Homo sapiens: one gene and its partner. The protein of the gene in region 1 interacts with the protein of each later gene in a biochemical or structural test. Each region holds a gene or a part of one and is shown in the gene's direction. Other genes may lie near its edges.

Region 1 (7,090 bases):
TCTCCTCCTCCACCAGGCCGCCCTCCATCCGCCTGCTGGCACGCTCGGCCCTGGCTTCTCTCTCCTCTTCTCCGTCTTTCTTTCAGTCGGCCTTCCTCCCTGTTCGTATGTCTTTGGTGTCTAATTTTCTGTTTCTCTTTCTCCCTGTCTTTCTGTCTCTGTATTTTTGACTCTGTGTGTTAGTCTGTTTCTATTTCTGTCTTTGTCTCTCTTTCTGCCTGTTTCTTTTTTTCTGTGTTGCTGTCAGTCTTTCAGGCTTTAGGTAGCTGTCTATCTGTTGGTCTCTATGTGTGTGAGTGTATGTGAGTGTGTGTGTGTCCTGCTGCCTGGTGTCTTGATTTCTTGTCTCCTGCCCCCCCCACCCCCCCTTCCAGCTCCCTGCCTGTAGTTTCTTTGCCTCCTCCCACCTCCCTTCTCCCCGAAGGTTTGGGAAAGGGGTTCGCTGGACACCCGGCACACCCGGCAGAGTAGGATGGGAAGGAGGAGGGGGTCAGAGGCCATGAGAAGGTCGGCCTTGGGGGAAGGGACTGGACAGCCCCACAGGAGGGGGAGGGGCCACCAAGGGCTGGAGCCGCCCCACCACTCCCGCCAGCCCCCTCCCCAGATTCCCCACTCAACCCTATTGGGGGAGCAGGAGGACGATGTCACCAGGGTGGGGACCAGATGGCTCTGCATTCTGGAGCAGGGTGGGAGGAGAGGCCCTGGGGGGGCTGGGGACATCCCGTCCTGGCCACTCTCTGCCAGCCCCCTCCCCTGGCTACAGGAGGGTGTGTTGGGCGCTGTCAGTGGGGCCAGATCACGTCCAGCTGCTCCCTCTGGTGGTCATACTCGGCAGGACCTCTGCCCGGCCCCAAGCCCTTAGCCTCCCTCCCCTACCCTGAAATTAACCCTCTAGTGGCCAACACCCACTGGGGGACAGCACCAACCCGAGGACATGATGATGATGAAGATGATGATGATGGTGAAGATGATGATGATGATGCCACCCCTTCTTCAGCGTCTACTCTGAGCCTGGCCTTGTCCTAAAAGCTCATCTATTAACTCATTCTGATCTTGCCAAAGCCCTCTGAAGTTAGTGCTGTCATCATCACCACTTTACAGCTGGAGGAAGTGGAGACAGAGGTCAGGGAACCTGAACTCTAGGTTACCCAGCTGAGGGCACAGCCGGGATTCAAACCCAGGCATCCGGCTCCAGGTTATTTTGCATTCTTTCTTTGGAGATCAGAGTTCATGGATAGATGGATAATTGGTTGTTTTAATCTGGACTAAATTTTAGTCATTTGGATAGATTCTGTCCACTAAATAAGAAACATAAGTAAATGACACTTGTTAGCTAAGATGAAATAGTAGTAATGTTTATACTCACTCAGCCTTCACAGCCACCCTGTGAGATGGGCAGTACTGCTATCCCTGCTTTACAGATGGGGAAACTGAGGCACAGGGAAGTTATGTGATTAGTTTCCTGGCTCTAGTCAGCTCTAAACCTAACCCCTAGGCTGTACCACCTCATCGCCTGGGGACGAGACTCATCCTGTGATTGAGGAATGCATGCAGCCTCTCTTGACACTGACGCCCACGCCCAGAAGCCTCGTTGGAGGATAAGGGGGCTTAACAGCTTGGAGGTCATGCAGATCTGGGTTCCAGGCCCAGTCCTGTGTGGCCTCAGTTTTCCCATCTGTCAAACGGGGACAATCGTGGCACCCGCTTCCCAGTTGTGGAGAGGACTCAGGTGATGGAGGCAACTCATCCTTTTGGGGTTCAGCACAAGGTGGGCATCCCACAGTGGTCGGCAAGCTTGGGGGTGGGCTCCGGATCCAGCTCCTAGAGGAGCAGACCCCAGCAGCTTGTGGTTTGAGCCATGCCCGTCAGCTCTCAGTTTCCTTCACTGACTATTGGGTATGATAAACAGGGTCCCTGAAAGTGAAGTTGGAGAGCTGAGTGCCAGGGGCACAGAGGGATCTGAACCCACTCTCATAGGGTGCCCAGCCCAGCAGTCCAGTTCACAAGGAGGAGGATGACAAGGACAATAATAATAGGCCAGGCACGGTGGCTCATTTCTGTAATCCCACATTTTGGCAGGCTGAAGTGGGAGGATCGCTTGGGGCCAGGAGTTCAAGACAAGCCTGGGCAACATAGAGAAACCCCGACTGTACAAAAAATTAAAAAATTAGCCAGGCATGGTGTCGCACGCCCATAGTCCCAGCTACTCAGGAAGCTGAGGTGGGAGAATCACTTGAGCCCATGAGGTTGAGGCTACAGTGAGCTATGATTGTGCCATTGCACTTCAGCCTGGGTGACAGAGCAAGACCCGGTCTCAAACAAACAAACAAAAAATGAAGTTAATCATAAGACAATGTCAAGTTCAGAGACCTCTGAGCCCTGTCCAGGATTATACACGTGATCTTAGTGATTTTTCCATTTTGGAGCATGTGAAAATGAGGCACAGAGCTGCTCAAGTTCACACAACCAGGAGTGCAGTGCCTGGGCCATTCCAGGTTTCCCTGTCACCAGGACCTGTAAACCTGGCCTGCCCATGGGGACGCCAGGTGTGTTGTCCCCGACAAGAGCTCAGGGGAAGGAAAGTGTGGGGTTAAATACATATCTGTGGTTTTGGAATGTGTGAACATGCAAGTGTGTCAGCCTGCGCATCTGTCACCGTGGCCAACCATGTGCCTGTTTGCTCAAGCATAGGGTGTGAACCAGTGTGTGTGTTTCTGCTTTTGTGGGTATGTGTGAGAGCGGCGGGTTGTCCTTGATGGTGTTTCTGCTTGTGTATCTGTGCCCATGGAAATCTGTCTGTGTGTACACAAGCTTGTTGGCCTTCCTATCTTTGGGACCATGTAGGAGTGCTGGCTGCATGTCTGTACCTTTGGGGTTTTTTTGTTTTGTTTTTGTTTTTGAGACAGAGTCTCGCTCTGTTGCCCAGGCTAGAGTGCAGTGGCATGATCTCAGCTCACTGCAAGCTCTGCCTCCCGGGCTCAAGTGACTCTCCTGCCTCAGCCTCCGGAGTAGCCGTGATTACAGGCGCACGCCACCACACCCAGCTAATTTTTGTATATTTTTTTAGTAGAGACGAGCTCTCGTCGGGTTGGCCAGGCTGGTGTTGAACTCCTGGCCTCAAGTGATCCTCCCGCCTTGGCCTCCCAAAGTGCTGGGAGTACAGGTGTGAGCCACCGTACCTGGCCATGTTTGGCCATGCATCTTAGAATGCATTTATGTGCGGTGTGCACATACTTGTGTGTTTCTGTATGGCCATTTGTGGGTGGGTCTTCACATAAACATGCATTTTTGTGGCCAGTTTGTGAGTGTAGATGGTGATGTGGCTATGTCTTTGACTGTATCTCTGTGTGGCCATCCATCTACATGAGCGTGCGTGGGTCTGTGTAGACATAAATGTGCTTGTTCTGGTATTTTGTGACTGGCATAAAAGGTGTTGGCTGTGTGTCCGGGTCTTTGGGTTTCTCTATCAGTGTGTCATTCTGTGTGTGTCTGCTTCTATGGATGTACATACATACATGGTTTTGTCTGGTTTTGTACCTGTATATCTGGGTCTTTGGGATTGTGTGTGGGTGTGTGTGTGTGGTGCATTTCTGGGGATCTCACCACAGCAGATAGCGCACATGCGCGCGCACACACACACACACACACACACCTCCCTCCCGTCCTCTAAAACAGCCCTGTTAAGGACCTCACGGAGCACTGGGATCGGGGGTCAGTGGGCTCCTGGGCAGTCAGGCTGGGTGACCTTCGGCCCTGGCTGGACCCAGTTCCCAGGGGGCAGCCGCCTCAGCCCAAAAGCTCTTGGAGGCGTGTGTGTTTGTGTGTGTGTGTGTTCACAACCCTGTCCTCCACAATCCTCCTAGCCTCTCCAGCCTGCCTGCTGGCTGCCTGCTGCTGCTCTCTCTGAACTGAGAGAGTTAACCAAGCGGGCCAGGGCAGTCTGGGCTGGGGGCCGCCCCCTGGCCCCCCTCCAGCCCCAGCTCCAGTTTCAGCTGCTGGTTGGGGAGGGCATGGGTGGGGTGGGGCTGGGAGGGGAGGCTGCTGGGGGCGGCGCGTCCAGCTCTGGGCCAGGGGGTCCAAAGTGCTCAGCCCCCGGGGCACAGCAGGACGTTTGGGGGCCTTCTTTCAGCAGGGGACAGCCCGATTGGGGTGAGCGTCCCCCACTCCTTCCCTCCAGGCCTCACCCCTGGTCTGGCTGGGCCGCCTATTTTGGGAGCAGGAGTGGCCAGCCCGAGGCTTCCCAGGCAGGCCAACCCAAGAGGGAGGGAGTGTGGTTGAGGCAGTGGGTTCTGCAGGGTGGGATGTGGGTGACTCCTCCCTGCCCTGCTGGTGCGTGTGCACCCTGGCAGGGTGTGGAGTTGGGACACACACGTGTGTAGGGCTGGTTGCGTCACTGCGTGGGGGCACCGGAGGCCCAGAGGAGGAGTATTGGATGCCTGACGGTGTTTACACCCCACGTCCTGCTCCAACCAGCAGTTTGGGGAGAGGTTGTTGTTCATGTCCATTCCGGCCCCACTGTGTGTGTGTGTGTGTGTGTGTGTGTGTGTGTGTGTGTGTATCCCTGCCCCAGCATGTGTTTTCTATCTCTAAGGCCCACTGGGCTGGGCCTCATGTCACTTGCCTGACATCCGATTGTGAAAGATGTCACCCAGAGGCGGGCAGAGGGGCTGTCTTTTCCTTTTCTCGTTGCTGCCCAGGGAGGAGACGGGGTGACCTTTCCCACAGGGGCAGCCTGTGGCGATGTGGCAGCTGGGCCTCACCCCGGCAGGGCTGTGCGTGACCCCCTGAGTGGGGGAAGGCAGGCTGTTGCCATGGTGGCCTGAGCGAGCAGAATTCCTCCAGGGTGAAGTGGGAGATATTTATACCCGGGGTCAGGCCGCGAGCGGGCGGGCGGAGAGGGCAGGGAGCTGGGATTTCGCGGGGCACAGTGAGGCCGGGCATGTAGGCAGGTGGGACTTGGGCGTGCCCTGCTGTCTCCTGCTCTGTGTTTGTGTGAGGCAGCGCCTCCTCTGCCCTGCCAGGGTAGGTCTGGGAATCGGGGGCCTGCTGCGGGAGGTGGAGGCCCAAGGGAGGCCCCCCGGGGACTGTGTGTCTCACCCCCGTCCCTGCTACGTTGTGTTGTTGTGTGATCCCATCGTGGAGGTTGTTTTGGTGACACTGTGTCCCCACGAAGCTGGGGATACCCGTTTCTCTAGCTTGGAGCCACCAAGATAGAGGACAAACACTTCTGTGATTCAGTCCCCAGACTGTCTCTGACTTAATCCCTTGGGTTCAAGCCCTATGTGGGAGAGCAAGGGCACACACTGCCTAATCCGTGGTGTCCCCCCCAGGACAATGGCGTCTCTTGGCCACATCTTGGTTTTCTGTGTGGGTCTCCTCACCATGGCCAAGGCAGGTGAGTGCAGGGGAGGCTGCCCGCTACCCACCTCAGCCCCAGGGGTGGCGGTGGGGACCGAAGAACCAAGTTGGAGACCCCAACCTAGACTAAGTCGGCTGGGGTACCAAGAAGTTTGGGGGTCTCCACGTGGGGTCCAGTCACAGGCTGGTATTTGGGGGAGGGGAGAGGAAGCCCCAGATCAGGCAAAGATGGGGTGGGATGGGGCTGAATCCCCGATGGGATAACTGGGTCACAGACAGCCTGCCGTGAGTCAGGGAGCTGGGGCAGTTAGGTGCCACCTGCCCCATCTGGGACAGTGCAGAGGGGGCAGCTGGGACCCAGAGAGTGTGGGCAGCCTGCCCAGACACCCTCAGACTCTAAGCCCAGCAAGGCAGAGCCTCCAGTGGTCTCCTCATGCCCCTCCCTGCCAGGACCCCAGGAAGCATTCAACCCCTGATTTCTCTCTCTTTCCAGAAAGTCCAAAGGAACACGACCCGTTCACTTACGGTGAGCGGGGGGTCTAATTTTGAGTCCTGGGGGAGAGCCTGGCTTTGCTGGTCCTTTGATTCCCCCTCGCCCTCCCCCAGAGTCCCAGTATTGATATCTCTGTCATTCTCCTTCCCTCTATTTTGTCCTTCCTCTCTGATTCCACCTGTCTGCATCTTTTCCTGTCTGTGTCTATCTGTGTCACTGTCTATGTGATACCTCTCTGGTTCTCTTTCTCTTGCCTGCGTCTGTCTCAGCATCTCGTGGCCCATCCTCTGCTTCTTCCCGTCTTCTCTCCCCCCTGTCCTCCTCCTCCCTGTCCCCTCCCTCCCTTTCCTATACACCCCTTTCCTCTCCCTGGTACCCCACTTTCCTCCTCCCATATCTGCTCCCCCTTAATTATCTTACTTCCCCCCTTCTGCCTGCTGGTCCTTTCTCCCTGTTCCCTCCTTCCCAATTTACCCCTCTCCTATTCTCCCTCCTGTCTTCCCTGCCCTCACCTTCCCTGCTCTGCTGCTCACAGACTACCAGTCCCTGCAGATCGGAGGCCTCGTCATCGCCGGGATCCTCTTCATCCTGGGCATCCTCATCGTGCTGAGTGAGTGCCCCTAGCTCCCGCCCTCTACCCCGCCTCTCCCTGGCCCCACCTCTCTCTGGCCCCGCCTCTCCCTGGCCCCGCCTCTCCCTAGCCCCCCTCTCCCTGGCCCCGCTTCTCCCTGGTCCCGCCCCTCCCTGGCCCCGCCCCGCCCCAACCCCTCCCAGGCCTTGCCCCGCCTACCCTGCCTTGGTTCCCCGGCCCCCGGTCTCGCCTCTAGCCCCGCCCCGTCCCCCAAGCCCCGCCCCTCGCGAGGGCGAGCTGGAGCTACAGCGCCGCTTGGCGCCCGCCGGGAGGGAGCCTCAGCTTCTCCTACCTCTCCACGCCCACAGGCAGAAGATGCCGGTGCAAGTTCAACCAGCAGCAGAGGTAAGACGCCCCTCCCCGCCCTCCTTCGCCCGCTCCTGCTCTGGAGGGCGCCGCGGGTGAGGCGGGGAGTACCCCTGACCCGCAGCCCGATCCCCGTCAGCGACTATGTATTAAGCACCTACTATGTGCCATGGCCCAAGCCTGGCCCTGGGACCAAGCGAGGAAAAAACCTCCCGCCCTTCCTGGCCGAGCTCCCAGCCTAGTGGAGGCGGTGGCCGTGGGTTCCAACAGCCCCACAGATAGAAAAATCACAAAGCGTGATA
Region 2 (7,287 bases), on another chromosome or scaffold:
AGAAGTCTCAGAATTTTGTACAAACCCAATTCTTTTTTTTTTTTTTTTTTTTTTTTGAGACGGAGTCTCGCTCTGTCCACCCAGGCTGGAGTGCAGTGGTGTGATCTCTGCTCACTGCAAGCTCCGCCTCCTGGGTTCACGCCATTCTCCTGCCTCAGCCTCCCAAGTAGCTGGGACTACAGGTGCCCGCCACCACGCCCGGCTAATTTTTTGTATTTTTAGTAGAGACGGGATTTCACCATGTTAGCCAGGATGGTCTCGATCTCCTGACCTCGTGATCCACCCGCCTCAACCTCCCAAAGTGCTGGGATTACAGGCGTGAGCCACCGCGCCCAGCCCAAACCCAATTCTTTAATATCAGTTGCTCAAATGTAGAATTGCAGGTCCCTGATGTCCAAAGACTGTGACAAATTCATTGGCGACTCAGAGGAAGTGGTTGACCCCACGGTAATGCAGAGAGGAGGAGAGTTGTGACTGTGAGTCTGCCAGGAAGGCTGCCCCAGTCTGTGGACTGTTGTGCAGTAGCAGGGTTTACAACTGGGTGAGGTACAAGAGTGGTGTTCAGTTGGTCAAAACAAAACAGAGAAGTAAAAGTTTAACTGCAGGAACAAGTCTCCAGGGAAGAGGAACAACAGCACTTAGAAGTCAACAAAGAATTCTCAAAGTCATCCCCAAAGCAAAGAACCCTGGATCTACTCATCAGCAAAGAAAACCTAAAGAACAAAACTGGGAACCCAATGGTTCACCTGAGATTCTTAGGTATGGAAAAATGGCTAATTCTAAGCTCCACTCACTGGCCAGGCTAGGGGCTATTATGTAATAACATTTTCTTATGTAGAAATCACTATGAAACTGAGCCTGTGACTGAACAGATAGGTGATTAGTGAAGGCTGGCAGAGTAAGAAATGAGGTGAGGGACGACTAAGACTGTATTAACATATTTCAGAAGCCCGAAGCAATGGAAGAGACAATAGAGGTACCTCTGATTTATGTAATTCAAAGTAAAAATGAAAGGAATTTAAACAGAGTATTGTGCTTGTTTTCCCTATGATGAAAACATATTGAGTGCTTTAGTAAAGTATTAAATATTTTTAAAAATCTTGGTAACCTGATCACATGTCTAAATTTTCTATAGACTAGATAAAAAGTAGGGCCTAATTCACAATATTTACACTTGGTCTGAAAATGAGTTTGCTAACAGATCCCCTGAAGGTTTCCTAGGAAATAGTTTGTGAACATCAGAACATCTTTCGAATATATCAAATCTTAGTGATATCCCTGTGGAGTCCCCTGAATGGTTGTGTCGTATTGCTTTGGTTAGATAACAGTGGAGACCCGGTGACTCTTAATTCCAAGTCCAGAGGAAAGAATGGCAATCAATATGGAAGACTGCAATTAAGAAACATTACTGCTATTAGAATGTAAATTACCACCTTCCTCCATTCAACATGTCTTCTTTCCAAAGCCACAGACTGCAGCAGCCTCACTTTTTCCTTTCTTAGAGCCATAGTCTTCCTCAGCCTTGTGCCTGTGATGCAGCCTTTGATAATTCTCGCAATAAAAACTCACTCATGTATGACATTTAGGAGGGAGCAAAAGGTTTGATTTGCCTTGGGGCCCTGGAACCATTATAAAAATGCCTTTAAAGAGAAATGAAAGGCAAAGAAAATTAGGGGCTCAGAAACTGACTGAACCAAAAAGGATGCCAAATCACTAGGCACTAGGCTGCCTCTCCAATAGTTCTAGATAAACAGAAGACCATTTAATATTGTTTTTTTCCCAAGAATCCAAATCAGTCTAAAAGCAGTTTCGATTGGAAAAGAGGAAGAATCAAGTGGCCAAGATGTAGCCTTTCAGTTTCAATGGTCAAAGCAAAAAAAAAAAAAAAAAAAGTCTTAAGACAGACTTTGGGCATCACTGGAGTATAAACATTTAAAGAACAGGGTTCTTGTCACTCCATGTCACAAACATGCCTAAAATTTCAAGAAAATCTCAGCTTTCACTAAGCGGCCCGTCATAGCAATAAGAGGCTACACTCTTTCCACAAAATCTATTCCAGTGAAATATGGCCCACTCACATTTTCATTTAGCTTTCTCTTGGTTCCTTCATTTGGCTGTGTTCTATTTCCTATTGAGTGGAGTCTTTAGTTATAAGCTTTCCTTAGTGTTATTTAGAAGGCAGCCACTTTTCTCTCCAAGCCCCTTTCATTGAGTGTGAGCCAAATATCTGCTACTCACACTGCCTTAAATTCAGGGACTCTAAGTAATTTTTGGTAGAGGACATATTCTAAAAGAGACAGTGACCTTCTGTCTCTCCCCACAGGTCATTCTGTTTATATCCACTAGTAAGTGTAGTCTAACCAAGTTGGTGTGGAAAGTAGCTTCCAAGAAAATTTAACTTATAGCAAGGAAAGAAAAATGTTCTTAGGCAAGAACGATTCCTGCAAATTTTATAAGACGTGAAGCAGCTTAGAGTGTCCTCTACAAAGCCAGTATCCAAGACTGCTGGCAACAGACCCGACTAATTAAAGTGAGGTCCTCATTCAGACGGCCTCAGCATCACTTCAACACTTGCCTACCCCAGGCCTGCTCCAGGTCTATTGAAAAAGAATCTGCAATCCCCATGTGATTCATACTCACATTCATGTTTGAGGAGTATTGGCCTAGAGCAGTGGTTCTCAACCTTCATTGCACATAGGAATCAACCAGGCATCTTAAAAACAAATTAAGGCTGTCTGGGGCCCACCTGCAGAGAGTCAAAGTTAATCAGTTTGGGGGTGTGGCCTAAGCACTGGGATTTTTAAAAACGGCCCAGGAGATTCTGAGGTGCAAGGAGGGTTGAGAGCCACTGGCACAGGGGCAGAAGAGGCTATTTCTTCCATTCCGCCCCCTCTTTGTTGCGGAGGCAAACTGAGGTTCCTGGAGTCAGAATCTATCAGTCGTGGTGACTGCCCTGGTTGCACTGTAAGTATGGGGGGACGTCTCCACGAAAAAAAACTAACTTTCTGCCTTGTGCTCTGCAGGTCCCTCCTTCTCCCACCTTCCCCAAGTAGCTGCTCCTGACCCCCCCACACACCTTGGCAAACGACACCAGTGGCCGATAGCAACTGGTGTTTTAAAAATACTAATTTGGAGCCCCATTTGAGACCTACAACGGGAGAGTCTGCATCAGATTCGGCCTCAGATTCTACAGCATCTGACTACATTCCCAGGTGTGTGTGATGCGCAGCCAGGTTTGGAAGCTAGTGAACTCCACAGTAGGTCTAGCCTTTCACCACGTGAAGTCATTAAGGGTTTGTAAGAATGAATGAGCTGTCAAGAGAGGAAAGGCCTGGTGCAGTGTTCCTTTATTAATTATGAGGAAAGTGATTTATTGGCAATGATAATGCTTCTCTTGGAAAGGGCAAAGAATGGTTCGTCGATTGCTGCATTAGGTTTTTTCCCACTCAACCTTAATGCTCGGCTTTTACTCCTCACTGTAGTTTAAAACCAGCACGCCTTTCACACGAAACAGACTCTGGGTCTTTATTCCCAGGTGAAACGCATCTTTGAGGGAAATACCAACACAGAGACTCTGTCCCAGTTCTTGGCCGGGGGACACCCTCCCCCGAATATCTCTGTTTGCTTGTGTCAGCATCTAGTAGCCAACGTATAGTTGTGCATATCTGATACGTAGAAAAACACAGGGTGAGGATTAAAAAAAAAATCATTGATATATGCCCAGATCCTTTTGCTAAAAGAAAGCTTCCTTTAGCAGAAGGGCAGGAAGTGAGGGAAGAAAGATAGTTGGATTAACAAAGTCAGAGGTGAGAAACGGGTAGGCGAATTGGGGGTCAGGGTTCTGTCTGCGGAAGAGAAGAAGAGGGTTCAAAAGAAAAGTTGCAGCGCCTGTGTGCGCGTGTCATCGATGGGCTGGGTGCGAGAGACAGCGCTAGCGCGCGGCCACAACGCACTGCGGGGCCGAGAGCCGGCAGGAAATCGAAAAAGCTGCTCGCCGGCAGAGGCTGGGAGGCTGGAAGGGCTCCCCACCCGCTCGGTGCTCCAGAAACGCGCCGGCTTTGCCCCGACGCGATCGCCTGGGGAGCCCAAGGGGCGCGCAGGGGGCCCCGGGGCGCCCGGCAGCCGCGGGGCCGAGCGCGCGTGTGAGCGAGTGCGAGGCTGCGGGCGGCGGGCGGGCGAGTGTGCGCGGGAGGGAGGGGGAGCGCGCGCGCGCCCGGGCCCCGGCCCTCCCAGCCTCCCGGCCTCCGCGCCTGCCTCCCGCCCGCGCGCACCGCTGCCCGCTGCCGCGGCTCCCGCTCGCGCCGGCGCTGCACGGTAGTCAGCCCGCCGCCGCCGCCTGCTTTGTGCTTCCCACAGAAGATGGGAGCGACCTCTTCCTGATCGGGAGCTGTTTAAAAGGAGGGAGTGCGCCGTATTTTCTACTAGCGTGGAGGAACGGAGGAAGAATCCATTCACACTCCCCAAACCAGGTAGGATCTTATGATGGACAGGCAGAAGGCATTTAGTCAGAGACCAAGAACTATTTTCCATTTGCTGCTCATAAGGCTACACTTCCCTCTGCTTTGGCAAACGAGCGGCTTCTAAATTTGTGTGTGTGTGTGTGTGTGTGTGTGTGTGTGTGTGTGTGTGTGTGTGATGTGGTGTGTGCGCGCCTGCACATTTTTCTGGGTGTCCGCGCTTCCCAGAGTGAAATTGCTCGGGCTGGTGCGTCTGGGCGTGAGGGTGCCTGCCTGCCTGCCAGTGCAGGCTGCCGGAGGAAGAAAGGGCTGCTAAGGAGAGATGCTGCACCCTGCACCGCGCTGGGCTCTGAGGATTCAGGGCGCGAAGAGCTAAGTCCACCCCGAATGCAGAGCTGCTGGGGATCCAGGCGTCCCCACCCACTGGACTCTTCTCCGCGGACATCCCTCCTTCCGGTAATCCCTGGGGTCTTTCCCCAAGGCCACATTTCCGAGCCCCCTGTTTTCCAGCGGGCGTTGGGTGCTCATTCACCACGGACTGCGGAGAGGAGGGAGGTGTGGCGGGGCAGAGACAGACGAGGAAGAAATGTAGGGGGTAGCAGGGAGTGGGCTGCGGGGTCCACGTCTCTGGGCACTGTGCCGTGGTGTGCTTTGGGGATTCTGCACACACAGGCATCTTTCCCCAAGAGATTGGAAGGGAACTTTGCAGCTGCATTCTCTGCCTCTGGAGCTTTGCTGGCTCTTGGGGGAAATGGTCTGTGTTCTGAGATGTGAAGATATCCTTTTTGGCTCCTCCTTAATGAAGAAGAGGGCGGTCTTATAGCTGGACAGCCGGCCAAAGAAACCAAATCCGCCCAGGCGATGCTCTTGAAAATACAGTACGTGTGCATCCTTGATTCTTTAAATCCACCCCCTGCATCACCCCCGCCTCTTCTCTATCCCCCCCACCACCCCGTGGATTCTGTTGCTGTTTGATGAATGGCTTGGGCTGGCAATTTGTATTTCCCTCTCCAAAGTGGTAGTGGTTGAGTTGAGAACAGGGGTGATGAAATTTAACAAAGCATTTTTAGAAGAGAGCAATGTGCATGTTGTACGCAGTCATTGGAAAGTCATGCTTTGCGCTAGGTATCCTTTTGAAGCCCCCGAACCTGGCTCTCCTGAAGCCGCTCTCTCTCTCTCCTGCTAGTCAGCTACTAGTGGTTGTGAATATAACAATACAAACTTTGTCCTGCTGGAGGTGTAAAGACTAAAAAGAGAAAAAAAGGATATCAGTGGGAGGTGTAGTGGAAGAAGCTTTTTAAAAAATGACAGATGTGGTGAAGACAGTACAAGCGTCCTGATCATGGAGGAGCCTCTAGCTGAGTAGGTGGAGATTTCTGATCAGATCTGGTTAAAGGCATTGCTGGAGTATCTCCAGATATGAGCAGTTGAACATGCACAATCTGAGACTTGTGCGAAGATTTCCCAAGGGAAAGAGGGAGCCACCAGGAGAGAATTCTGAAAGTATACCTCTCTTTCCCATGCCCCCACCAGCGCGCGCGCGTGCACACACACACACACACACTCACATGCTTTCTCTTTCTCTCTCAAAGCTACTCCTGCAGCGAGTCAGAAAAAAAAAGGAAAATGAATCTAGATGTTTCATTCATTTCAAATAAGAAGACAAAGCCGGAAGAGGGATGATTGGTTTTAGGTTCCTCTTTCAAATCCTGTGTTACTTGGATTGAGCTCCCTGGGTTTGCTAAACTTGCTTAATTGGGAGGTTAGGCGGGTGTGAAAGCAGGAGGAAGGAAGGGAAAACTAGCTCCATCTTTGGGGCCTTGTGAGTGAGAAGGTGGGGGAGGACCAACTTATTTCATCAAGAGGCAAGATGTGTGCTCTTAAATGGTTTTCGTTTTACAAATTCTGCCTGCTTGAAGAATTCCATTTGGATCTCACGGCTCTTTAGCTAAGATTTCTCACACCTGCTATAAAAGAAGCCCTGATTTTGTCCCCTTAAAATGGTTGTTGTCTTTTTTTAAAAAAATGATTAATTCCTAGAAAAACAACAGCAACAAAAAGGACTGAACAGAGATAAACCATTATTTATTGTTGAGCTGTATAGGGCTACAAAGGATGTAAGAGTGTCATGATAATCAGACTTTACTGTCTTGAAAGCTTAACAGGGCTGAAGGAGGAGAGTAATGAACTAAAATATGAAGGCTTATTTTCTATGTATCTATCTACCTATGTCTTTACTTTAATATTATTATATAGTGGTTCCTACTGTAACGTTTCAGATTAAGCACATAGCCCTTTTGTTGACCAGGGGAAGAAAAGAGCATGGGAGTAACAGTGCTTTGACTCCCAATAAAATTACAAATGGAAAGTGAGGTATAGTCAGTAACATCTATAGGACTATTTGCAGGAATTATGTTAATTGCTCTGTTAAGCTTTCTGTGTTTTGAAAAAATAAAATATATTCCAAGAGAACTTCAGCATCTGTTAAAAAGCTATGTTTAACATGCTTTTGCCAGGCAAATATAGACTTTTATTTACTTGCAAAATAAACACATGATTCCTCTTAGTATTCAATCTATTTCTTTGACAAAATAAATGATGAGAAAAGCTGTGCAGATCCAAGGAAGTTGCAATTCCCCTTTAAAAAGCCAGCCAAGGCATTCATTTAGCTCATAGATGTGGTTGTCTCAAAGTAAGTGCATTTTGGGACATTAATGTCTGTGTGTTTTTTTTTGTTGTTGTTTTTTGTTTTTTGTTTTTTTTTTTTAATGTTGCAATTCAGTGAGACAAGTTCTTTCTTTGTGATGCCTTTTAGGTACAGGGAGGATAG

What was found.
Region 2: the proteins of FXYD1 (region 1) and SLC8A1 form a complex in vitro, tested with the Homo sapiens proteins (one study listed by BioGRID).

The regions. Positions count from the first base shown.
Region 1 is NC_000019.10:35,134,746-35,141,835, forward strand, and holds the start of FXYD1 (phospholemman precursor), read left to right. Parts: upstream 1-4,078; 5' UTR 4,079-4,149; intron 4,150-4,389; exon of another isoform or gene 4,390-4,487; intron 4,488-4,676; exon of another isoform or gene 4,677-4,843; intron 4,844-4,888; exon of another isoform or gene 4,889-5,022; intron 5,023-5,173; exon of another isoform or gene 5,174-5,280; coding exon of another isoform or gene 5,281-5,334; coding exon 5,335-5,395; intron 5,396-5,851; coding exon 5,852-5,884; intron 5,885-6,386; coding exon 6,387-6,461; intron 6,462-6,790; coding exon 6,791-6,827; intron 6,828-7,090. UniProt on the Homo sapiens protein: Associates with and regulates the activity of the sodium/potassium-transporting ATPase (NKA) which transports Na(+) out of the cell and K(+) into the cell. Inhibits NKA activity in its unphosphorylated state and stimulates activity when phosphorylated.
Region 2 is NC_000002.12:40,449,086-40,456,372, reverse strand, and holds the start of SLC8A1 (sodium/calcium exchanger 1 isoform A precursor), read left to right. Parts: upstream 1-4,282; 5' UTR 4,283-4,469; intron 4,470-4,688; exon of another isoform or gene 4,689-4,913; intron 4,914-7,287. UniProt on the Homo sapiens protein: Mediates the exchange of one Ca(2+) ion against three to four Na(+) ions across the cell membrane, and thereby contributes to the regulation of cytoplasmic Ca(2+) levels and Ca(2+)-dependent cellular processes.